7 linked regions of the Homo sapiens genome follow. The protein of the gene in region 7 purifies or fractionates together with the protein of the main gene of each other region. This does not show direct contact. Each region holds a gene or a part of one and is shown on either strand. Other genes may lie near its edges. The genes, in order: CSDE1, SLIRP, LBR, HEATR1, PEX13, PPM1G and ARHGEF39.

Region 1 (3,500 bases), on a different chromosome or scaffold from region 7:
GACAGTCAGTTAACTTGATCTTTGGCCTTTTAAGATCAGAGTTGGTTTATGTTTTTAAGAAACACTTAAAATTATGTGATTCTTCCTTCCTCTGTCCCCCCACCACCTCCAACCCCTTCTGATTTAGGGTAAAGAAGTTGCAACAGATGTCAGACTATTGCCTCAAGGAACAGTCATTTTTGAAGATATCAGCATTGAACATTTTGAAGGAACTGTAACCAAAGTTATCCCAAAAGTACCCAGTAAAAACCAGGTAAATAATCTTTTTCAGGAGAGTCCTATTTCGCCTCAGTAGTAATAGAATAATATGGTGTGGTATACTGAGATTTTATCTTATTCAGTTAATATAATGTGGTAGTGGAACAACTAAGGACCTCTTGTTACGTATATTTAAACTAAAAGAGAAACCAGATTTATATATTCATAAATATGGTGTTTTTTTTTTTTTTTTTCTTTTTTTGTGACAGAGTCTCGCTCTGTCGCCAGGCTGGAGTGCAGTGGCGCGATCTCGGCTCACTGCAACCTCCGCCTCCCGGGTTTAAGCGATTCTCCTGCCTCAGCCTCCCAAGTAGCTGGGACTACAAGGGCATGCCACCACACCCAGCTAATTTTTGTATTCTTAGTAAAGACGGGGTTTCACCCTGTTGGCAAGGATGGTCTCGATCTCTTGACCTTGCGATCTGTCCACCTTGGCCTCCCAAAGTGCTGGGATTACAAGTATGAGCCACCTCGCCCAGCCAAATATGTATTTTTTTTTACTGGGTGATGAAAAAAGGCCAAAGAAGAAAATGCTAATTAAATTGGAAAGCACCTGATTGGATTAGACTGCAGTTCAGGTGTACATTTGTTCCCTCCTCTGCCCCTGCCCTACCCCTCCAGTTTGTGGGGAAGGTGAGGACACAAGTGGTGTCATTCCTGGAAAAATTCCTTAAATAAAATCTTTTGGTACCAGAGTGCTGGGTCTTAATTGCATTGTTGTAATTTTATGGTTGACTCGTGTGACCATAGACCATGAAGCTTTCACATTGGACTTATGTTGTCAACACCTTTTTTCGCTTCAGGGAACTAAGTTAAAAATAACATGGGTTTACTATGTGTTCTTCTTGTTTGACTTAGAACTAGGAAGGATGAGAAATCTCCAGCTAAAATCGTTTTTCCTTCTCATCAGAATGACCCATTGCCAGGACGCATCAAAGTTGACTTTGTGATCCCTAAAGAACTTCCCTTTGGAGACAAAGATACGAAATCCAAGGTGACCCTGCTGGAAGGTGACCATGTTAGGTTTAATATTTCAACAGACCGACGTGACAAATTAGAGCGAGCAACCAATATAGAAGTTCTGTCAAATACATTTCAGTTCACTAATGAAGCCCGAGAAATGGTAAGTGTTGGATATTACTGGATATGTATCTAATATGCGAAAGCCAATGTTATATTCAAGTTTATACTACTAAATTAAAATTTTTCTTAAGTTAAATGACCCTAATGGGCATTTACCTTGTTAAGGTGATTAAGAATCATACACATTTGAGTCAGTCTGGGTTATCTCTGGCAGTTATCTTGGAAATATATGTGAAAAAATTTTTTGAATGGAAATCTGGACAGGATTACTAAGATATTTTTAGAGTCAGTGATTCTCAGGCCCTTAATATGAAGAGTAAGAAAATTCAAGTTCATCATTGTAGAAAGTAGATTTTCCCAAACTATTTCCTAAGACATTTAATTAGTGGTTTCTGTTTTTAGGAAACACAATTCTTCCTCCAGTGTGGTCCAGGGAAGCCAAAAGATTGAACACCCATGATCTAGACACTAGATCACACATAAAATACACTAACAGCAATGATAGCTGATGAGCTTTTTTAAAAAAAAAATCATAGGCACGGTGGCTCACACCTGTAATCCCAGCACTTTGGGAGGCTGAGGCGGGTGATCACTTGAGGTCAGGAGTTCAAGACCAGCCTGGCCAACATGGTAAAACCCCGTCTCTACTAAAAATAGAAAAATTAGCCAGGTGTGACGGTGGGCACCTGTAATCCTAACTACTCAGGAGGCTGAGACAGGAGAATCGCTTGAACCTAGGAGGCAGAGGTTGCAGTAAGCCAATACCATGCCGTTGCCCTGCAACCTGGGTGACAGAGGAAGACTGTCTCAAAAAAATAATTGCAAAAACATCTCATCATGTTTTAAGAAGGTTTAACAATTTGTTGTGTTGGGCCACATTCAGAGCTGTCCTAGGCCATGGTTTGGACAAGCTTGCAATTAAACCAGAGTCAAAAAGGTTTTGTTTTGGCAGAACTTCACAAATTGTTTTTTAAGAGTTTGTGTCTGGGAGTGGCATAAACCAACCAGATTTTTTCCCAAACATGTTTTATGAACTCATTTTCTCAGACATAATTTGCATTTAGTTACGTTTGGGATCATATCATCTACACTATAACTCAGTGTTGCCAGTGGAACTGGGTACATTGAATGAAAATTTAAGTTTCTTGAGTTTTTTTTAATCCTTTGCCTTTGAAGAACTGGTTGTATTTGACACAGTGTATTTAACTTTAAAAGTTTGTAAGTCTGAATGTGTGATTTTTTTTTTTTTTTTTACATTTTCAAAGGCAAGATCTGTTTTGCTTTACGGTATGGAAAATATAACTTGGCTACTGTCAGGACTTGGCAAGGATTAAATGTCAAAATATTGTTTAGGTCATATTTAAAACTTACAGAATCACTTCTGCAGTGAGCAGATATGTAGTATGTAATACAATAGCAGATTGATAATTTGTGTTCATTGTTTCATTAAACATGAGTATCTACCATGTTCCAGGTACTCTTGATACAGTAAGCCTTACAAAGCTGATAATTTAGTAAGAAGGAAAAAAAAAAAAGAGAAAAGATTGCATATATTTTATTCTTCAGATGTAAATTTTAACTCTTTCCTGGGCCTAAACTCATGCAATTTTTGAGGTAGAGACTGGAGAAGTGCCTTTGTCTACTTTGGAATTATGGTCTGTAAATTAGTGAAGTTTCTGGAGATTATATTGTCATTAGACTTGGGCTTTTATGAAATACATTGTGTTCACGTGTTTACGTTCACATGTGGTAATTTTTTCTAGTGCATATTTGCCAGGAAGTAGCAATTGGAGAGTCTTAGAAAATTGCTCAGGTTAAGTTACTTTGTTGAAAGCAATGAGTTTGTACTTAAGTGAGAACAGTTCAAATGTGGATACAGTATTTGTGTCACATCAGAGAAAATTCCTGATGAATTTAACTTGATGGTGGTTGTAAAGTTGAATGTTGCCTTCTTGACAAGTTTCACAGCCAGTGAAAATATTATTTGGGTTTCAGGGTGTGATTGCTGCCATGAGAGATGGTTTTGGTTTCATCAAGTGTGTGGATCGTGATGTTCGTATGTTCTTCCACTTCAGTGAAATTCTGGATGGGAACCAGCTCCATATTGCAGATGAAGTAGAGTTTACTGTGGTTCCTGTGAGTTGTTTCTGAGAAAAGTT
Region 2 (3,498 bases), on a different chromosome or scaffold from region 7:
AAATGCTTGAGGGGATAGATACCCCATGCTCCATGATGTGCTTAATTTACATTGCATGCCTATATCAAAACATCTCATGTACTCCATAATAAATATACATATTTATATATATAAATATATAAATATATACACCTAATAATATATAAATATATATAAATATATACCCAAATAAATATATACACCTACTATACACTCACAAAAATTGTTGAAAAAAAAGCTTAAAGTGTTTTAAAAAATTCTTATCTTGCAACAGGGTCTCGCTCTGTCCCCCTGCAGGGGTGCAGTGGCCTGATCTCACTGCAGCCTCTGCCTCCCAGGCTTAAGTGATCTTCCTGCCTTGGCCTCCTGAGTAGCTGGGACTATAGACATGTGCCACCATGCCCAGCTAACTTTTTTGGTATTTTTTAGTGGAGACAGGGTTTCGCCATACTGTCCAGACTGGAAAATTTTTTTAATTTTCATTTTCTTTAAGAGACAGGGTCTTGTTCTGTCACCCCAGGTGGAGTGCAGTGATGCAGTCATGGCTCACTGCAACCTCTGCCTCCCAGGCTTAGGTGATCCTCCCACCTCAGCCTCCTGAGTAGCTGGGACTACAGGCATGCACCACCACACCTGGGTAATTTTTGTATTTTTTGTAGAGATGGGGTTTCGCCATGTTGCTTATGCTGGTCTCGTCGAACTCCTGGGCTCAAGCTATCCGCACACCTCGGCCTCCCAAAATGTTGAGATTACAGGTGTGAGCCACTGTGCTGGCTTATTTTTGTGGAGATGGGGGTCTTGCCATGTTGCCCAGGCTGATCTTGAACTCCTGGCTTCAAGCAATCCTCCTGCATTGGCCTCCCAAAGTGCTGGGATTACAGGCGTGAGCCACTGTGCCCGGCCTACAGTCTTTATTGATTACATTTTGAGTGATACTTGATTAAAAAGTGAAAAAGCTTTATCATAGGTATTTGTGTTAGTTTTTTTATTGTTGTATAACAAAATACCACAAGCGTAATGGCTCAAAAACAACACATCTCTCACAGCTGAGCACAGTTTAGCTGGGTCCTCTCCTTAGGATCTCACATAGCTATATATTCCAGGTGTCAGCTGGGGCTGTGGTGTGTCTCATCAAAGGGTCAACTGGGGAAAAAGACTGACTTGCAAGCTCCCTCATGTGGTTGGCAAAATTCCTTTTTTTTTTTTTTTGAGATGGAGTCTTTCTCCCTTGCCTAAGCTGGAGTTGCAGTGGTGCAGTCTCAGCTTACTGCAACCTCTGCCTCCTGGGTTCAAGCCATTCTCCTGCCTCAGCCTCCTGAGTAGCTGGGACTACAGGCATGCGCCACCACGACCGGCTAATTTTTTTTTTTTTTTTTTTTTTGAGACGGAGTCTCACTCTGTGGCCTAGGCTGGAGTGCAGTGGCGCGATCTCGGCTCACCACAAGCTCTGCCTCCTGGGTTCACGCCATTCTCCTGCCTCAGCCTCCTGAGTAGCTGGGACTACAGGCGCCCGCCACTACGCCCGGCTAATTTTTTGTATTTTTAGTAGAGATGGAGTTTCGCTATGTTGGCCAGGCTGGTCTCGAACTCCTGACCTCAAGTGACCCGCCCGCCTGGGCTTCCCAAAATGCTGGGATTACAGGTGTGAGCCTTCATGCCCGGCCATAATTCATCTTTAACTGTAGGACTGAGGTCTGTTTTCTTGTTGACCTTTGGCTCTGAGTTGGGAGCTGCTCTCACCTAGGAACTCCCTGCAGTTCCTTGTTACCTAGTTTATCTGTAGGCTGTCTTACAATATGGCAGCTTGCTTCTTTAAAGCCAGCAAGGGCTTCTCCAGTCTGCTTAAGATGGCATCTTATACAGAACATAATCACAGGAGTGACATCCCATTACTTTCGCTGTATTCTTTTGGTTAGAAGCAAGTCAGGTTTCTCCTCCACCCAAGGAGGGGAGGAGATTATATAGGGTGTAACATGGGGAATGCATGGAGATCATGGGGCCCATCTTAGAATTCTGCCTACTACAGTATTCTAATAAGGACTTGAGATTTCTAATAATTGGCAGAGGATATTTTAAGTTTTATCTTCATTGAGTACCATTTTCTTTTTTAGATTTATAACTAATAAAACAATATTTTTATATTAATTACATTTCCTTTGCTTTCTTGTGAGGGTTTAGAAATCAGCCTATAAATTTATCCTGGGCTGTATTTTTCTGTGGGCTTTTTTAGGGTGTGATGTGAGTACATAGAGTTCACACACACTTCACTGAAACCCTTTTTTCCTTGCAGCACTGTAAGGGCTGTGGTAAAATAACAACATAAAGGAACTTAAATTCTTAATTCTTGGTTTAATGTTACTTGACTCCCAAAGACTAACAGATTAGTTATATATAGTGCCGGTGAAGGTGTAGGGAATCTGGCACTCAAGTTGTTGAGAAGTTCAACTGGTACCTTCAGTTCTGTTGTGTAGTTGGCAAAATACCAAAGTTAAGAATTTATATTTGCTTTGATCTAGCGGTTACTTTTCTAAGAATTTATCCTACAGAAATGTGTGGTCAAGAATATTCCAAAGCAGCATTATTTAATGTCAAGTAAGAAGAAGAAACTTAAATGTTCATCACTGGGATTGATTAGATATTAAGTCACTGATGCAATGGAATTTTATATAGTTGAATAGAAAAGTTGGGCACATGTATTATGGACATGAAATATTTTCTGTAAGTTTGAAAACTTCAATTTTTTCAAGAGCATTTAAATAAAAAGTTCCTTGCAAAAAAATGAATAGATTTTTATTGGTCCATAAATAAAATAGGACCTGCAAAGAATAGATCTTAGATTTAAATAAAAGGCGGCTTTGATGTTGGTAAAACAAAATAAAATATGACAAAAAAAATATTTTTTTGTTCCATTCATTGTACTCTAGTTGGAAATCCTGGTTCCTTTTTTGAGACAGGTTCTCTCTCTCACTCAGGCTGGAGTGCAGTGGCACAATCAAGTTCACTGCAGGCTTGAACTCCTGGGTTCAAGGGATCCTTCTGCCTCTGCCTCCTGAGTAGCTGGGATTAGTCGTGTGCCACCACACCTGACTAATTTTTTGTACTCTTTGTAGAAATGGGGCTTCACCATATTGCCCAGGCTGGTCTCGAGCTCCCGCACTCAAGCAGTCTACTCACCTCAGCTCCCAAAGTGCTGTGATTACAGGCATGAGCCACCACACCTGGACTGAGTTATTTTTTTTGAGACAGCCTTGCTCTGTCGCCCAGGCTGGAGTGCAGAGGCGTGATCTCAGCTCACTGCAATCGCTGCCTCCTGGGTTCAAGTGATCCCCCTTCCTCAGTCACCCAGATAGCTGGGACTACAGGCATGGGCCACCACACCCAGCTAATTTTTGTATTTTTAGTAGAGATGGAGTTTCACTATGTTGGCCAGGCTGGTCCCAAACTCCTGACCTCAAGCCATCCATCCACCTCAGCCTCCCAAAGTGCTGGGATTGAGCCACTGCACCTGGCCTATGTTTT
Region 3 (3,500 bases), on a different chromosome or scaffold from region 7:
AGGAAAATGCATTTTTTCTTACATTAATTCATCCACACTATCACTTTCCTACATAAATATAAACTGATATAATAAAAATAAAGCAAAGAAAAGTTATTTAATTTGTCATAACCTGTAACAGGGCATCTTAAACCTCTGGAAAATACTTACAAGAAAGTATTTTGATAGATTTATGGAAAGCCATAATTATCCCTAAAAATATACCACCCACTGCTTATTTTTGAATGGTCTACATTTCTTTCTAGCAGTTAATTAGACCTATTGAATTGAAATTTAGAAGAAAAAAAACCAGACATACCCATCCAATCAATCCGGGGCGCAATTCACAAAAGTATTTGAGATCAAAAGTACCAATTCGAGGGTTTAATTCACGGCCAATGAAGAAATCATAGACAGCATTTCCTGAGAAAGGAAAAGTGTTTACCCAAACAGCATTCCAAACCCAGTCAGGAGGCTTTACAACGGCACTGCCGCCCACTATCCAGGCTCACAATTCCACTGCCTGCAAGACCCTGAGCAGGGCTCTGGTGGTGAGAGGCAGACAGGACGGCACAGACGAGCGGAACCAGGAGATGCCTGCCCGACTGAAAAGGCAGTTGCTCCAGCCTTTGGGGGAGCCGGGGGCCCAGGTTTCTTAAAAAAGTTAACCAAAATCATGGGGGCCCCCCCAAAGGACTTTACACTCCATTTTTTTTAGATAGGCGACATTTTTTTATATTGAAATACTTCAGGTCAGCATCAACCAATTTGTAACCTCTCGTTTCTCTTGTTTTTTGTTTGTTTTGTTTTGAGATGGAGCCTCGCTCTGTGGCCCAGGCTACAGTGCAGTGGCACAGTCTCGGCTCACTGCAACCTCCGCCTCCCACGCTCAAGCGATTCTCTTGCCTCAGCCTCCCGAGTAGATGGGATTATAGGTGTGCACCACCACGCCCAGCTGATTTTTGTATTTTTAGTAGAGATGGGGTTTCACCATATTGGCCAGGCTGGTCTCAAACTCCTGACCTCAGGTGATCCACCCGCCTTGGCCTCCCGAAGTGCTGGGATTACAGGCATGAGCCACCTCACCCGGCCAGTAACCTCTGTTGTTTTTTGTTTTTTAAAGAGTGTTTACTATTTTGGACAAAGAAATAATATTTGTCATAAGTCAAAATGCCTGTAAGTTTACTAAACGTCTTACTGTCATCAAGCAACTGCAAAAAAAAGAAATGAGTAAGAAAGTATGAAGGTAAAACAAAAATATTTTCTTCCTTTAAATTCATATCTCTTTAACGTTTTTCTTCATCTTTTCATTTTTTCTTACTTCTCTTCATTTCCCAAAAATGAAGTTAGAAAAAAAGCAATCTATTCAAATCTGGAAATGGCTGCTGGAGGGCTCTGGGACGCATTCATCCAACATGCAATTCATCACTGCTCACCAGAGCTGGCAGGCGACAGGTCATTCCGGGGCGCTTTCAAAGAGCGCATGTAGAGATACACACTCAAGACCACACAAAAAACAGTGGCCGCAAGTGCAAACTGAAGAAAATGACTGTACACGTAATGAAACTCTACGCCCTGGAAGAGAGATGTTCCGATGACTGCAGATGTCAGGATAAAAGCATAGAATCCTTTAAAAAAAAAAAAAAAAGGAAGTGGAAAATTAATATTAACCCAAGGCTCACATGAAACTTACGCCACTATGAAACAATGCAATGTTCATTTTTAAAGTCTTAATTTCATTATTCAGACTAAATACACACAAATATGCAAATAAGCAATGTCTGAGGTATAATTTTCAATATACATACCATTATCTCTTGTAGAACTTTCCAAATAGTTTAACATATTGATTCTTTTTCAGTTCAAATGGTCATTATTTGCTTTTAATTAAGGGAAAACAGACAAGAAGTGCAACCTGAAAATTCCCACAATCCAAACTCTCAGGCACAAAGTCAAATGGCTAATTATTAACAGAGCTGGGCCAAACACATATTTTAAAGTCTAATGCCATTACCTAAGGGGAGGGTATTATGCACCTACCAGGGGTCAGGCACCGAGCCAGGTTGGTAGTTACAAAATTATAAATATTTATACTTAACCAAGTTGCCAATAATGGTTTCAAAAGATTCTAGTAAAACTCTATCATCCAGAACAGAGATCTTAACATGCCACCCGCAGAAAAGATGCCACAACACAAATGCCCGAGGCTAGGCAGGGGACTGCGAGTACCTGGGGGGTAGGGACAGCAGGCGGGGACATTCACGTGCAATGCCAAGTTAAAAAGCACCCGCCCTGTGACGCTCCACAGAACTCTCGTTCCGGGCTAGTCCTGCAGCCACACAGAAAGGCTCACTGGAAGATCCAATTTTTTTCTTTTGGCTAAAGAAATAGTTTTGCTTTCAAAGGAGCTGAGTGCCTCAAAGAGCTGTGATCCTAAAAAGTCATCAAATCCATTTGGATAAACGGTCAAAAGCAAAAAAGAGGTAGCTGTTATTTATATGAGAATTCTAAAACCAAACCTTTTGTAAAGTAAAATAGTTGTCTCAAATTATCTGAATCCACATTTTCCACAAATACTCCAAACAATAACTTCTAAATTCTGACTTTTGAAAATATTCATTTACCTTTCATAAAATGTAATTTTAAAAAAGAATGGTTAGATAAAGCAGTCTTTTGCTCTCTAGCCTATGTGGATTAAAAATAATCATCCAAAATGTCTTAGGAACCTCCTTAGTTAATAATCGTAAAATCTCGAAAAGAAATCTCAATACTTGAACCAGAGTAATTAGATGAGGAAATTTTTAAAAAGGATCAAGCAACTTGGCCAGCCACTCCCCCACTGGCTCCAAGAGCTCCATGTCCAAGTGCTGTGCTCAGTCTCTGAATGTACCACACCCCTCAGAGGGAAGTGAAAATATAACACAAGACTACTTAGAAAAGAATTGGTACCTACAGAGAAACACACAAAACACTGAAATCAAAGGACCTGGCGGCAAAGTCAACAACCCACCTCACCCCAGACTCACCTTCCCTGGTGTGGTAAGTGAACCACCAGAGGGAGGGAGGGTGCCAAAGGTTCTAAAACTTGCTCCATCAGCAAAGAATTTGGTAAAAGCAACAAAAAGTCTAACAATACCAATGATAAGTATTAAGCACCCACCAGGGGTCAGACTCTGGAGCTGGGGGAGACGTTTTATCACATGACTGGCACTAAAAGGCAGAAGGTGTCTAAACTATCTTTGGCTTCCCCTTTAGAACCCAGTGGAGTGACTGCAGACAGAGTAGATGCTGCGTAAGTCTCTAAACAAAGTATCCAAAGTTAAAAAATGAAGAATTGAAAGGATAAAAAGTTCAACCATTACAATACATAATGTAATTCTCAAGAAAAGGAAAACACTCTACTCCGTCTTGTCAAATGGAAAATCATTCAAGGATGACTACAAAATAGATCTGTACTTTGCCAAAGTCTTCAAATGACAAAGCTGGACTGAAGCACTCAGCACATGCTCTTACAGTGCGAG
Region 4 (3,500 bases), on a different chromosome or scaffold from region 7:
TGTACAAGCAGTACAGAGTAATAACTTAGAAGGAAAATAATCCAAAGCCAGATTTACAATGTAACGTCTCCAGTGAGGGATTTGATTAACTCAACGTGCTGCTACAGGCGAAAACATGCTCATGACCTCGAGAAAGGTATTAAAAGTAAAGCAATATAAAATAACCTGTTATCTACATATGTATAATAAAACACTCTATTTGTCCATACTTTTAACACTGAGAACCAGTATAGTTCAGGTCATCATACTTCACAAAAGACACCAAGAAACTAAAAGTTAAGAAGGGCCTATCTGGACTATTTTTCAAAATATGAAGATTTTACTCTTTTTAAAGTTTACACATTTTAGCTAACAATGGCCATGATCAGAACTTATAAAATCCTGCGGGTATACGTAAATGTGAAAAAGATATAATTCATTTAGTAAATCCTATAATGAGAAGCCCTCTAAAATTTGGAGGACAAATAAAAACAAAATCCTTACATATAGCAGATATTAAAAAAAAAGTCTTGCTACCTCAAAACATGTCAAATGTAAACAGCTGAAACATGTCCTTTAGTAATACTATGAAAGACAGTAGTAGGCTGGAGGGATACACATCTATGTAATATTAAAATTATTTAAAGCCTAAAAGATCTATTTTTAGTAAACAATTGAATGAAATAGTATTTTGTTCAAGCACTAACACACCAAGTGAATTCTTCATCGCTAGAGGTAGTTAGGTGTAGCTTGGGTAATTATCCAATAAAGACAATAAAAGAGAGGAGAGTCAGGCATCAGATACAAAATATTGCAACCCTAAAATTTTATAATTCAACTAAACTTTCCGCAAAAGCAAGGGAGTGCCTAGTTGACTATCTCACTGCTACCCAAGACTGCTTCACATTTCATCCAGCTACTATCCACAGACTCAACATCTCGCCTCTGATTTTCAGTTTTGCTGTGACTAATAGGCCAGGCTGTTGTTTTATTCAACATCCCACTTTCTGGAGATTCTGCTTTCCTTACCACTGCAGTAATGACACTTTCAAGCTTCTTTATTTTTTTCTGCAACAAACTGAAGACTCTTATCGCAAATGGAAAGTGGGTTTCTTTTAAAGATGAACAACAAGAGACGAGCACAGACAGGATCACATGAAACGTTACTTTCTGCTTCAGGTTAAAGGACTCCTCCTCACCCACGCTTATTAAATCCTCCACCTTGAAAAATAAACACACTCTATTACCAGTTGCTCTTGATTTTCATAAAACAATTTTTTCAACTCAGGTCTATCTAGGTATTATGTGTTTTACATTTAAAGTGAGATGACAAACAGAAAGCCTTTATAAAGTACTAAGCACTGATTTCTAAGTAATTATAAGAATAATTTCAGAAACTGTAATGAACATAATTGCACTTGCCAACTGGTTAATGTATTTAAATCACACATCTAATCCTTTACAAAGGTTTATTTAATAAGGCAAAGATAATTTTCTCCTCTTTGGGATTATATTTTGCTATTTTAACAACAACAACAACAAAAAGACTAATATTTTAAATGGGAATGAGAAAAAATGGTGGTAAAAAGGATATATTATTCTTATGGGTGTGATATGGATCCACATTGAAAAAATATATAAAATGTTAAAAGATTTCAAACATTGCACAGAATATATTAAACAACACTGCAACGTTTAAAGTAAAACCAAGTACTCAAGAATAAAAGAAATTTTTTTTAAGAAAAATCTAGTAAAGCAAAAGCTGAGAATTTAATAAGAGTATGAGAAAGAAATCCAGGGGGTGGACTTTCAAAGCATACTTACCATCTTTAACATTGAAGAAGGATCTCCTAAATTTATATTATCAGCCAACAACTCAATCATCTTCTGATTTGCTACACCGATTAGTTTTCCTGGCTTTGTGCTTTTAATTACATTTTCAAGAGCTGTAAAGTAAAATCGAATGCAGAGAGCTCTTATGTCACCAACACTCAAAGAATCACATGAAGAATTCAGGCAAACATTTTACTATTGTTTATGAAGGTTTGCTTTCTATTTTTCCTTGTATCCGATTCTGAATTTGTCTATGAATTGGCTTCCTTTTCACTGTATACTTTTTATCTTGGCAAAAATTTTAAAAGACCTTACTGGCATATAAGCATGACCAACAATAAATTTTAAATTTTCCTTGTTTTCTTTTGTGTTATCTGTTCACTTTTTCTAAAAAAACAACTGAATTTTTTACCTTCTTCCCAGCCTCTTAATAGAGGGTGCAGGGAGCAGATTCCTGATTTTGATAAATATATAGCAATTTTCATCTCAGCAGATTCCGTATCATCATTATTGATAACCATAAATGGCAGCAAACATACAACCACCTGATTTGACAACTGATCATTTTCACTCAGTATCTCTTCTTTAATTAATATGTCAGCGGCTATCTTAAGTACCTCGTACCTAAAAGACATGCAAGCACACTTGGTTGAAAGACACATTGGAAGGCTTCAATTGGGCAAAAATTCATCATTACATTACTCCAGCTTAACTGACAATATCCTGGTCTCCTGACCAAAACTATTATTCAGATACACTAAGACACCACTTAAAATCCATGCCAATAACAGAGTTATCTGTGACAATATTTTTATTTATTTATTTTTTGTACAAGTGCTGGGATTACAGGCATGAGCCACTGTGCCTGGCCAACAATACTTTTAATCTGCTCATCCTGTCTAATCTTAAAAAAAAAATAATAATTTTTCTTAGAGAAATCACTAGAGGTTAACTATAACATAAGACATATCACACTAGATGTCTCAACTCTACCGGAAATCAGGTTCACTCAGGCACTCAAAAAAAATGAACCAAGCACATCCTACATGATAGATATCTACCCATACGATAGATACAAAAACACGTAAGACACACTCTCATCCTCTATGGAGCTTGCTTACTTTTTCTTGCAAAAAGCTTTGGTGCCAAAAATGAAATAAACAGAGCTCATTAAAAACTTACCACAGATGGTATCATGTGTCTCTGAACTTATTTTTTAATTTGTTTAACACATTGGTATTTGTTTTTAATTATAAAGTAAAAATTACATAAAGCAGCAAATTAGAAAGTCCTACCCATCTTACTTCCCAGAATGCAATATCATACATTATATACTTCCTTTTGCATTTTATTAAGAGAAATTCCAAACATAGAGAACAGTATAATGAACACACACAAACACAAATTAATTAACTGTATAATGAAAGAGAGTATTACAGTAAGATCTGTTCTACTACCACGACAAAAGGGTCATGTAATCAAAGCCTTAAAAAAAAAAAGAAGAAGAAATAGAAAGAACTTGATATAAGAACTTCATCAATTCAAAATAGTATGAGGAGAAATGAATACATACCATTCTCCATTCTTTGAAAGTTCTGCTCTTTGAAAGAGATTCAGAAGATTTGAAATCGTCACTTCTGAACTGAAGTGTTCTTTGAAAATCTAAAGGGAAAAAAATATCCAGAGTA
Region 5 (3,500 bases), on a different chromosome or scaffold from region 7:
AGACTGCTGCACTAGTAGTGAGCAAGGCTCCGTGGGCATGGGACCTGCCGAGCCAGGCACAGGAGGGAATCTCCTGGTCTGCCAGTTGCGAGGACCATAGGAAAAGCGCTGTATTTGGGCAGGAGTGTACCATTCCTCCAGGTACAGTCACTCATGGCTTCCCTTGGCTAGGAAAGGGAAATCCCCTGACCCCTTGTGCTTCCTGGGTGAAGCGATGCCCTGCCCTGCTTCAGCTCGCCCTCTGTGGGCTGTACCCACTGTCCAACCAGTCCCAGTGAGATGAACTAGGTACCTCAGTTGGAGATGCAGATATCACCCGCCTTCTGCGTCGATCTTGCTGGGAGCTGCAGACCGGAGCTGTTCCTATTTGGCTATCTTGGAAGCGACTGCCCGCAAAAAGGTATTCTTTTTAAAACCTAAGTCGGCTGGGTGTGGTGGCTCATGCCTGTAATCCTAGCACTTTGGGAGGCTGAGGTGGGCAGACTGCCTGAGCTCAGGAGTTTGAGACCAGTCTGGGCAACACGGTGAAACCCCGTCTCTACTAAAATACAAAAAATTAACCGGGTGTGGTGGCCTACACCTGTAGTCCCAGCTACTCAGAAAGCTGAGGCAGGAGAATTGCTTTAACCCAGGAGGTGGAGGTTGCAGTAAGCTGAGATCGCGCCACTGCACTCCAGCCTGGGTGACAGAGCAAGACTCTGTCTCCCGAAGAAAAAAAACAAAACAAAAAACAAAACAAAAAAAAACACCTAAGTCAGGTCATATTACTCCTTTGCTCACAAATCTCCAGTGGCTTCCCATTTTGGAATAAAGGCCAATGTTCTTACACATGTCTACAACTTATACCATCTACTCCCTTCATCTCCTGCCACTAACACTTTGCTCCAATCACACTGGCCTCCTTCCCGTTCCCATGATATGCCACTTACATACCTCTACATTTTTGCTGTTCCCTATGACTGAAAACACTCTTCCTTCAAAGAGCTGTAGGACTTACTCCCTTAACTCCTTCAGGGAGGCGTTCCCTGACTATATGTAGCACTGCAACCCCTGTTCCTCCTCCTGACACTCCCAAAATTCTTCCCAGTTTTGTTTTTTCCCCTATAGCACTTACCAGTACCTTCTGGCTTACTATATATTTTACTTATTTATTTACTGTTTCTCCCTATTAGACTGCCACAAAGGCAGAGATTTTTAGAATATATTTTATTCATTGCTATATCCCTAGCTCTGAGAATTCTTTGGTATGTAGTTGGCACCCAACAAATATTTATTGAGTTAATAAAACATTATCCTTCTAATAACCCAAATTTAAAGGTCTAGGGCATTTTGATTTCTACTTTGCCTTTATATACCTCATTTAGTCAGTAACTACATCCTCTGAATCTATTATATGAATCCTGCTTCTCACACACTCTATTTTGGGTCTTCATTATCTCTCAAACAGTCTAATGCAAAAGTATCATTACTGATGCCCCCAAATTAATAAATATCTATTAAGTACCTTCTATGTGTCAAGCAGGTTAGACAGTAGGAATACAAAGGTGAATACAACCCAAATCCTTTATGAACTTTACCACCTAATTACAACGTGCTGACTTCTACTGATTTATCTTAAACCCTTCAGACTGACTTTTTCGTTTACATGTATGTCACAGTCTGCTTAAAAACAAAAACAAACATAAACTACCAAAAAACCATCCATTCCTTATGTAAAGATTAAGTCTCATAATGCCAATTAAGAGCTTCTACTATTAGCTTTCAACCTAATTTCTCAGCATTATTTCTTACGATCCAATGCAATACTATAGGACAACTACCAAATAAATCTCATATTTTCTGCCTATATACTTTTGTTCAAGCTGGTCTATCAGCTTGATAGTTTTTGTTTCTTTATCTAACTTTTGAAAGGTTGCCTAGCTTTCAAAAATCTAACTTAGATGCCATTTCTTCCTGGATACCACAGTAAAAAATGTTAGCTTCTCTTTTCTAAAGTGAGCTAATACTCTCTACTAGTTGAGAGAATACAGCTTAACATTCAACCAGTCCTGGTTTTGTTTATAGTTCTGCCTTATTAAAGATGTGACCCTAGGTAAGTGAGTTCTCTGGATCTCAGTTTTATCACTTGCAAAATGAGGATAATTCCTATCTCTTTGGATTGTTGAAATAATTAAATGAGATAAAACACACAAAATACCTAGCACAGTGTCTTGCATATTAAAAAAGGTTCAAGAAACCTTATGTCTCTCCCCAATTGTTATATTTCTTATCACACTTTCTGCCTCATTACCTGTATATGTGTCTTAAACCACCTCCCTTCCAATAAATTTTAGAAAGATAGGAATTATGCCCTATGTATCTTTGTATCCTCCACAGCACCAATTTCAGTACCTTGTAAACAGGTAATGTGCACTATTAAACTGAACAATAAACTAATCAGCAAGCCTATTTTTGCTATATATTCCTCTGCCAGTTTTGAAGCTCTTAACTGAAAATATAACTGGAAACAGTAAATACAAATCAATATAAAGAAAACTAACAAATCTATTCTTGAAATTTGAGATTGTTATATGGTATCTGAACCTGTTCCCTTACAGTTCTCTTACCTGTTACTTCATCACTGTGAGTAGACAATAGTTTCCAAATGAGGTAAGGACCACCAAGGATAACAGCAAAGAACAAGAATATTGGCCAAGATTTTGCTGAGGTAGCTGCTCGGTCCTCAGCACCAAGGCATGCCACAGTTCCTTCACTCTCTGCCCAGAGGTCTTCATTCTCAGAGCCTCTTCTTAAACCTAACATCCGCTGTAGCCGTCTGTAAAGATACCGTATAGTCCTAACCAATGCAAAAGCTGAAAACACTTTTGTAAAGTGTATTTTCAATCGGGAAAAGTGATTTGCTACATCCAATACAGCCCTGAAACTGTTATAGACAGCTGAAAAGGTAGCATCCATCATCATACTGACAGAGGCAAATGCATGCACAATACTTTCAATGGACTGAAATGCACCCCTGCTGCTTTCTTCAGCTTGCTGAACAAATCTACTGGGTGGAAGATCATCTACACGGAGGCGGTTGTAGCCCAGCCCATTATATCCATAACTATAAGGACTATAGCCTCCATAAAATGAATTTCCATAGGCACCATATCCAGAAGAAAATGAACTGTAAGCAGGTCTAAAAGTGTTCACACTGCTACTTCCTGTCTGCTGTGATGGCCTTGGAAGAATAGGTGGGGGCACTCTGGTAAGTGCTGGTTGTCCAGGTCTTGTCATTAAAGTAGGACCCAAATCAGCAGATCTAAAACCAAAAAAGATTCAAAACAGTTATTTAAGCATACAATAAATTCAATTCAAAGTAAGTATTAAACATCTCCTATATACCTGGTGCTATGACAAATTCTACTGAAGACTGATTAATTGATTTAGAGACAGGGTCTCACTCTGTTGCCCAAGCTGGAGTGTAGTAGCACAATCAAAAGCTCACTGTAGCCTCAACC
Region 6 (3,500 bases), on a different chromosome or scaffold from region 7:
AAGGAGTATGGGATTTCTTGTGCCGGTTCCTTCACATCCTCACTACACTTATCTGCCTTTACAGTGGCTCGATCATAGTTCACTGCATAGCCTTCTGGGCTCAAGGGGTCTTCCAGCCTCAGCCTAATATAGGCACATGCCACCATGACTGGCTAATTTTTTTTTTTTAAGTTTTTTTTTGTAGAGATAGGGCCTTGCAGTGTTGCCCAGGCTGAGGAATTTTATTTATGTTTATTTTATTTATTTATTTATTTATTTATTTATTTATTTATTTATTTATTTATTGAGATGGAGTCTTACACTGTCACCCAGGCTGGAGTGCAGTTGCGCGGTCTCAGCTACTGCAAGCTCCGCCTCCCGGGTTCATGCCATTCTCCTGCCTCAGCCTCCCGCGTAGCTGGACTACAGGCGCCCGCCACCACGCCTGGCTAATTTTTTGTGTGTGTTTTTAGTAGAGGCGGGGTTTCACCATGTTAGCCAGGATGGTCTCGATTCCTGACCTCGTGATCCACCCACATCGGCCTCCCAAAGTGCTGGGATTACAGGTGTGAGCCACCATGCCTGGTCTAGAAATTATTTTATATTTTATACCATTGCCTTATAAGTTCTCAAGCAACTGGAAAATACAATCAGAACGTATTCCTCAAGATTTCAAGGATATTTTACACAAAGTTCTATTGTCTGATTCCTTAGCAGTTGTTACTACTGTTTCCCTAACCTCTAATCTTCTATTGGGTTATTAGTCTTAGAATTGAATTTTGAGAGGTAAGGGCTTGAATTTGAACATAGAAATTTATACAGGTCTGATCAGTAGTTCTTGACATTGTATTATCTGGAAACAAATCTTTAGAACTGAGCTTAAGATGTTTAATGACATTTTGTAGACAGAGTATGATTTCAGTGTAGTTGTTTTTGTTTCTTTCTAGATCTAGTTCAGAGATGAAGTATATCAACTTTTTTTTCCTTTTTGACCCAATGCTAGCAGAAAAACAACACCTTTTAATCATATTTAGTATTTGAAAATGTGTATACAGGTTCCTTTTTATTTTATTTATTTCTTACAGGTTCCTTTTTAATCAGCTTTATTGAGATAGAGTTCATATACTGTATGGTTCATACCACATATGGTTCATATACCATACAGTATATGAACTCACTTTAAGAGTATAATTCAGTGGGTTTAAGGGTATAATTCATTCATTTTAAGGGTATAATTCAGTGGCTTTTAGTATATTTTCTTTTTTTTCTTCTTTTTTTCTTTTTTCGAGACAGGGTCTTGCTCTGTTACCCAGGCTGGAGTGCAGTGACGCAGCCTCAGCTCACTGCAACCTCCACCTCCCAGGTTCAAGCGAATTCTCTTGCCTCAGCATCCTGAGTAGCTGGAACTACAGGCTCACGCCACCACACCCAGCTAATTTTTATATTTTCAGTAGAAACAGGGTTTCACCATGTTGCCCAGGCTGGTCTCGAACTCCTGGCCTCAAGTGATCTGCCTGCCTCAGCCTCCCAAAGTGCTGGGATTACAGGCATGAGCCACCGTGCCTGCCTGTTTTGTAGTGTATTCAAACAGAGTTGTACAACTGTCACCACAATCAGTTTTAGAACCCCAAAAAGAAACCCTGTACTCTTTACCAGTCACTCCCTATCTTCCGTCCACTAACCCCTGGCATCCACTAATTTACATGACCTCTATGAATTTGCCTATTCTGAACATTTTATAAATGGAATTCTAAATACACTACCTTTTATATCTGGATGCTTTTACTAAGCATGTGTATTTTTGAAATTGACTTTAAAGCTTGTTGGCCCCTGGAAGAGTAAATTACTCTCCACCCCAAGTATTCCCTCTACCCCTCAGCTTTGCCTGTAAGTTTCTTTTTAAAAAAATCACACATACATTGTTGTAGTAGATTTAAGAATAAGTATTTTGCTGACCCAAGGTTCTTTTGCTTCTTTCTAGATCAGTGCCTTGCAGGTTTTATTTTACAGAGCTTAATAGAATCAGAAATCTCTTTAAAACTCCAGTCTCATATCCAGTTATCACTCACCATCTCTGTGTTTGCAGCAATAGCCAGGCCTGGCCCAGAGGGACTTGATCTCCACTTTTGGTTTTTAGACTTTTCTGTGGCTTTTACCACCTGCTGTGTATCCTTGACCTCATACTGCTGGACTCCTTTGGATGGATACCAGCAGGATGGTTCAGGCTCCAGTGGGCACTTTTTAAAATTCTCTCCTTCTGTTCAGATAGACAGAGCTCAGGCAGATCACCAAGTCTGTTGCCTGTGTAACCAGGAAAGAGATGCTAGTTTTCTTTTAGGCACTCCCATTTGTTTCTGTTGGAACCTTCCTCACTTAGTTGATGGAAGGGAAGCAAAAGACCCAGAACTCCATCTCAAATTAATGACTTAACAATTCTTGAATTTTCTCTTATCTCCTAGTTAACTCTTTTTCTTATCTCCAGGAGGTCAGTTTTAATTATTGTTGTTTATTCATTTATTTTCATGGAGACAGGGTCTTACTGTGTTGTCCAGGCTGGCCTTGAACCCCTGGCCTCAAGGAATCTTTTCACCTCAGCCTCCCAAAGTGCTGGAATTACAGGCATGAGTCACCACACCCAGCCTGATATTTTTCAGTTGATGTATCATAGTTGTGCCTAAGCATAATTTTTTAATTTTAATTTTTTATTTTTGGGGACAGGGTCTCCCTCTGTCGCCCAGGCTGGAGTGCAGTGATGCGATCTCAGCTCACTGCAACCTCCACCTTCTGGGTTAAAGCGATTCTCCTGCCTCAGCCTCCCGAGTAGCTGGGACTACAGGTACCCACCATCACACCCGGCTAAATTTTTTGTGTGTATTTTAGTAGAGACGAGATTTCGCTGTGTTGCCCAGGGCGGTCTCGAACTCCTGAGCTCAGGCAATCCGCCTGCCTCGGCCTCCCAAAGTGCTGGGATTACAGGCATGAACCACCACGCCCGGCCAAGCGTAATATTTTTAAGGGTCATCAATGTTGTGTCATGAATCAATCAGTGTTTCGTTCTTTTTTATGGTTGAATAATATTCCATGGTATGGATTTGTCACATTTTGTTTATCCATTCATTAGTTGATAGACATTTTGGATTTCCACTTTTTTTTTTTTTTTTTGCTATTATAAATAGTGATACTATGTACAAATTTTTGTGTGGAAATATGTCCTCATATCTCTTGGTTATATACCAAAGAGTGGAAGTGCTGGGTCATATGGTAACTACGTGTTTAACATTTTGAGAAACTGCTAAACTGTTTTCCAAAGTTGCTGTACCGTCGTACATTCCTGCCAGCAATATATGAGGATGCCAGTTCCTTCACATGTTCACTACACTTATCCACCTTTTTTATAATAACTAATGGTGGGTGTGAGATGGTATCTCATTGTAGTTTTGATTTGTATTTCTCTGATGGCTAAATGGCTAATGATGTTTGAACTTTTTGTTTGAGACAGAATCTCACTCTGTCCAGATTCA
Region 7 (4,240 bases):
CCACCCAAAGCACTAACACACACTGGCAGCATTCACAAACACACCCATCACCAACTGCACCCCAGGTGTTGTGGTCTACTCTCATCACCTGGGCTCACAGTGACACCAATTACCATGGGATTATCTGTCCTCTTCCATGTTTGAGCTCTTAGTGTGTGGACTGTCCCACATTCACTTGAGACAGTGTAACCAGTCCTTTACCTATCTGGTATCACCACCAGTTTCCTTGGGACATAAGCCCAAGGTACAGTCTGATCCAAACTCTCCCCTTCCTTCATCCAAGCCCTTCAAGTTATTCCTCCCTGGTCTAAGCCCAGCATTATTCCTTTCTTAGAATTCTTAGAATGTCAGAGCTGGTGGGGAGGTGGTAGAGACCTCAGAACCCTGACAATCCTCTGGTTCTTGGCTTGCGGCCCAGATTCCTAGGAGTCCAAAACAGTAGGGAGGGAGCCTAAAGTTTCTGACATTTTGTTTTTTTTAATAACTTTTTTTTTCTAACTACAAAGTAATGCATGCTTAATGTAGAAAACTTGGGAAAGGCAGAAGTATAAGAGAATTTTTAAAATCACCCTGTTTGTCCCATTCATCCCTTTAGCTTCAGTGATCCAGTGCCTGGCACAGATACAGATTAGGTACTTAATACACATTTGTTAAACACATTATCTTCAATTCCATTACCCGGAGATAAAAACCACAGTTAACTTTTTATTTTTATTTTTTATTTATTTATTTTTTTTTTGGAGAGATGGAGTCTCGAACTCCTGGGCTCAGGTGATCCTCCTGCCTCTGCCTCCCAAAGTGCTGGAATTACAGGTGTGAGCTCCCGTGCCTGGCAACAGAGTTAACTTTTGATTGTTTTGCCTTCCAACATTTTATATATGTTTTATACAAAGGGGATTATATTATACACCTTTGTAGCCTGCTTTTTTTCCTCTCAGCAATATACTTACTATGTGCGTTTTCCCATATCGATAGCTTCTTTACAACACCATTTTTAATACTTTCATATCATTCCTTCAAATGGCTATACCTTTTCCTAGCCAATTCTGGGAACAACTGACCCCCTGGCATTTGGCATGGGCCCAGGACAGAATGTGTACTGTAATGACCGCCCCCCGTCCCAATTCTCCAGATAGGACATTAAGTTCCTGCCAGCATCTGCAGCCCGTCTCCTGACTCAAAGTTCAGGCTGCTGCTCCAACATAGTGCCACTCAGAGGAGGGCTCCACACCTGCCCCCAACCTTGCCCTGCCCTGCCCTGCCTTGGCCGGCGCCGCGCACCTAAAGCGCCGCTCTGGCGGTGGGGCTGGACAGAAGAGACCCTGCGCGGTCCGGCCGCTCGCCGCGCATGCTCCTTCCTGCGCGCTGCCCTCCCCGGCCCCGCCTCCGCGGCTCCCGCCCGCGAGCGGTTGGGATTTGAATCTGCCGCGGACTGCAGCCGGAAGTGTCGATCCCTCAGCCAGGGCATGGAGCTCTCCTGCCCCGGTTCGCGGTGCCCGGTGCAAGAGCAGCGTGCCCGCTGGGAGCGGAAACGCGCCTGCACCGCCCGGGAGCTGCTAGAGACCGAGCGGCGCTACCAAGAACAGCTGGGGCTGGTGGCCACGGTGGGGGACCTGGCACACGCTCCCATTATAGGACAGGGACCCCAGGGTGTGGGAGGGTCTCTGCGAGGTCGGTAACCCGGAGCATGTAGGGAGCCTGGGCAGACTTCTGCGGTTTCTGGGGGCGCTTGGCGTTAGCCTTCTCTTCCTCTAGGCTAAGAACCAATGTTCTCTCCTTCCGCAGTACTTTTTGGGGATCCTGAAAGCCAAGGGGACCCTGCGACCACCTGAGCGCCAGGCCCTGTTTGGCTCCTGGGAGCTCATCTACGGCGCCAGCCAGTGAGTGGAAGGGGCACAGGGAGAGGAAAGGAGGGAGAGTCCTGGCCTGTGGCCGTGCACAGAGCTTGGAGTCAGACTTAGGTTCTATTTGGAGTCCGCCAGTTAGCTCACCTGTGGCCTTGGCCCAGGGCCTTAGCATGCCCTTGTTCTCCATCTGTACAATGGGGTAATAGCACTACTATTAGTGCTATTCTCATGAAAACTAAATGAGGTGGTGCTTGAGTGGTTCTAGAGCTGCCCTTTTGCTGTCCTTGCCCACACAGGGAGCTGCTTCCCTACCTGGAAGGAGGATGCTGGGGCCAAGGGCTGGAGGGCTTCTGCCGCCACTTGGAGCTCTATAACCAATTTGCTGCCAACTCAGAGAGGTCCCAGACCACCCTGCAGGTAACCTGGAGATGACCTCAAATCTTGCCCCTTACCTTTCCCCTTCATCTGGAGACCCAAACTTCATACATTTCCTGCATTTATAGAGCCCTCTGGGTGCTCAGCTCTGTGGTAAGTTCCTTGTAGAGAAACGAGAGTTTCTCTCAGGAGCACAGCTTACTGAAGGCTGGGAATGTGGATACAGATGAATGCAATATAAGGAGTGGCTTCTCTCCCTGCTTCCAATCCTTTCTCCCTCACTCCAGGAGCAGCTAAAGAAAAATAAAGGTTTCCGGAGGTTTGTACGGCTTCAGGAAGGCCGCCCTGAGTTTGGGGGCCTTCAGCTCCAGGACCTGCTCCCTCTGCCTCTGCAACGGCTCCAGCAGTGAGTGAACTCTTGATTCCAGCCGCCTCTCTCTTTTAGTTTGTATGACTGCTGCCCTCAGCTTTGTGGGATGCCTTGGGGTCGATCCCAAACTCTTGCCTCGACCCTGAGCCAAATTGCTTCTAAAAACCTTTTGCAAGAGTAAATGTGAACCCATTGGAGTACCCAGGGTCTGCAGCCTGAGGCCCTCAGCTGGAACTGTGGAACTTTAAATTGAAGTGAGGGGGCCTGTACTAGGGCCTGAGGCACGGTTTCTGGAAAAGTTTCAGATGCGGGGCTGGCCTGGGTTAGAATTTCTGTCTCTGGGTTAAGCCTGAGTTAAGGGCTATAGTCAGGCTGTCTGTAGCATCCTCCTTGGGTTGATAAACTTTCATCTTCCAATCTGGCCTCCTGAAGTATGGCTAGTCTGCCAGTGACTCTTCAGTGTGGGATGGAAGAGGGCTGTGTGGTGTGAGCCTGGTTCTGAGTCCTACATGAAAGAAGGGGATACAGTAGCCAGAAGCAGATCTTTCCTGGCCTTCAATTGAAGTATGGGTAGAGGGTGATCTGCACATCAGGCAGGGGGAATTCTGCCTGGCTCTGCTTCCCCTCAGACTTCCCACTGTTGAATTCCAGGTATGAGAATCTCGTCGTAGCTTTGGCTGAAAACACAGGTCCCAACAGCCCTGACCATCAACAGCTCACACGTAGGTTCTTGCTCCTCGGCAACGCAGGCTGGAGGCTTCCTCTCCTGTATTCCTTTCTGATTCTGACCTCCAACAATGTCTGGTATGACCCTATCTTCCACTGACATGTATACAGTGTCCCTACTGCTCTGCCTTTTCTTCAAGAAGTCAGACCCTGACCCTGGTCCCTTCCAGAATAACCTCTTTCACAACCATGGCACCCAAAGTCAAAGTTGTATGGGGAGTAAGGTGGGAGATGTTATTCCAGGGGCTGCCCGACTGATAAGTGAGACTGCCCAGAGAGTCCATACTATTGGTCAGAAACAGAAGAATGACCAGCACCTTCGGCGTGTCCAGGCTCTGCTCAGTGGACGCCAGGCAAAGGGGCTGACCTCAGGTAGCTTGCCTACTTCCCCTTCAATCCTCAACTGCCCCATCTTTTATTTTTATCTAACTCCAAATGCCGACCAGCTGCTCTTTTCTTACTCACCCTTCTTCCTGTACTGACCCAGCACATAACCCCTATTTTCTCAGCCTCCCTTTCCTCTTATTCCCATGTATCTTGAAGCTGCACCAGAATAACAGCGCTCCCATCCCCCAGGGCGCTGGTTCCTACGCCAGGGCTGGCTGTTAGTGGTGCCTCCCCATGGGGAGCCTCGGCCCCGCATGTTCTTCCTCTTCACTGATGTGCTCCTCATGGCCAAGCCTCGGCCTCCACTGCACCTGCTGCGGAGTGGCACCTTTGCCTGCAAGGCCCTCTACCCCATGGCCCAGTGTCATCTCAGCAGGGTCTTTGGCCACTCAGGAGGCCCTTGTGGTGGGTTGCTCAGTGTAAGTAATAGGTGGGAACCCTAGACCCAAAATATGTCTCAGATGCTTATGGGCTGGTTTATCTCCCTGGTCTGGGTCCCTTTTCATAGGAACAGAGCCATCTACATTGAGAGAGG

Evidence for each region.
Region 1: the proteins of ARHGEF39 (region 7) and CSDE1 purify together in Homo sapiens (affinity purification with mass spectrometry; one large-scale study listed by BioGRID and IntAct). This does not show direct contact.
Region 2: the proteins of ARHGEF39 (region 7) and SLIRP purify together in Homo sapiens (affinity purification with mass spectrometry, with the first as the bait; one large-scale study listed by BioGRID). This does not show direct contact.
Region 3: the proteins of ARHGEF39 (region 7) and LBR purify together in Homo sapiens (affinity purification with mass spectrometry, with the first as the bait; one large-scale study listed by BioGRID). This does not show direct contact.
Region 4: the proteins of ARHGEF39 (region 7) and HEATR1 purify together in Homo sapiens (affinity purification with mass spectrometry; one large-scale study listed by BioGRID and IntAct). This does not show direct contact.
Region 5: the proteins of ARHGEF39 (region 7) and PEX13 purify together in Homo sapiens (affinity purification with mass spectrometry; one large-scale study listed by BioGRID and IntAct). This does not show direct contact.
Region 6: the proteins of ARHGEF39 (region 7) and PPM1G purify together in Homo sapiens (affinity purification with mass spectrometry, with the first as the bait; one large-scale study listed by BioGRID). This does not show direct contact.

What each region holds. Positions count from the first base shown.
Region 1 is NC_000001.11:114,730,485-114,733,984, reverse strand, and holds part of CSDE1 (cold shock domain-containing protein E1), read left to right. Parts: intron 1-127; coding exon 128-253; intron 254-1,168; coding exon 1,169-1,381; intron 1,382-3,336; coding exon 3,337-3,477; intron 3,478-3,500. UniProt on the Homo sapiens protein: RNA-binding protein involved in translationally coupled mRNA turnover.
Region 2 is NC_000014.9:77,711,103-77,714,600, forward strand, and holds part of SLIRP (SRA stem-loop-interacting RNA-binding protein, mitochondrial isoform 1 precursor), read left to right. Parts: intron 1-3,498. UniProt on the Homo sapiens protein: RNA-binding protein that acts as a nuclear receptor corepressor. Probably acts by binding the SRA RNA, and repressing the SRA-mediated nuclear receptor coactivation. Binds the STR7 loop of SRA RNA.
Region 3 is NC_000001.11:225,411,039-225,414,538, forward strand, and holds part of LBR (delta(14)-sterol reductase LBR), read right to left. Parts: intron 1,608-3,500; coding exon 1,416-1,607; intron 403-1,415; coding exon 299-402; intron 1-298. UniProt on the Homo sapiens protein: Catalyzes the reduction of the C14-unsaturated bond of lanosterol, as part of the metabolic pathway leading to cholesterol biosynthesis.
Region 4 is NC_000001.11:236,584,017-236,587,516, forward strand, and holds part of HEATR1 (HEAT repeat-containing protein 1), read right to left. Parts: intron 3,475-3,500; coding exon 3,386-3,474; intron 2,437-3,385; coding exon 2,225-2,436; intron 1,926-2,224; coding exon 1,804-1,925; intron 1,201-1,803; coding exon 1,009-1,200; intron 1-1,008. UniProt on the Homo sapiens protein: Ribosome biogenesis factor; required for recruitment of Myc to nucleoli. Involved in nucleolar processing of pre-18S ribosomal RNA. Required for optimal pre-ribosomal RNA transcription by RNA polymerase I.
Region 5 is NC_000002.12:61,031,220-61,034,719, reverse strand, and holds part of PEX13 (peroxisome biogenesis factor 13), read right to left. Parts: intron 3,302-3,500; coding exon 2,607-3,301; intron 1-2,606. UniProt on the Homo sapiens protein: Component of the PEX13-PEX14 docking complex, a translocon channel that specifically mediates the import of peroxisomal cargo proteins bound to PEX5 receptor.
Region 6 is NC_000002.12:27,399,592-27,403,091, reverse strand, and holds part of PPM1G (protein phosphatase 1G), read left to right. Parts: intron 1-3,500.
Region 7 is NC_000009.12:35,662,396-35,666,635, reverse strand, and holds the start of ARHGEF39 (rho guanine nucleotide exchange factor 39), read left to right. Parts: upstream 1-1,440; 5' UTR 1,441-1,466; coding exon 1,467-1,604; intron 1,605-1,785; coding exon 1,786-1,880; intron 1,881-2,143; coding exon 2,144-2,264; intron 2,265-2,509; coding exon 2,510-2,628; intron 2,629-3,243; coding exon 3,244-3,314; intron 3,315-3,561; coding exon 3,562-3,690; intron 3,691-3,894; coding exon 3,895-4,124; intron 4,125-4,240. UniProt on the Homo sapiens protein: Promotes cell proliferation.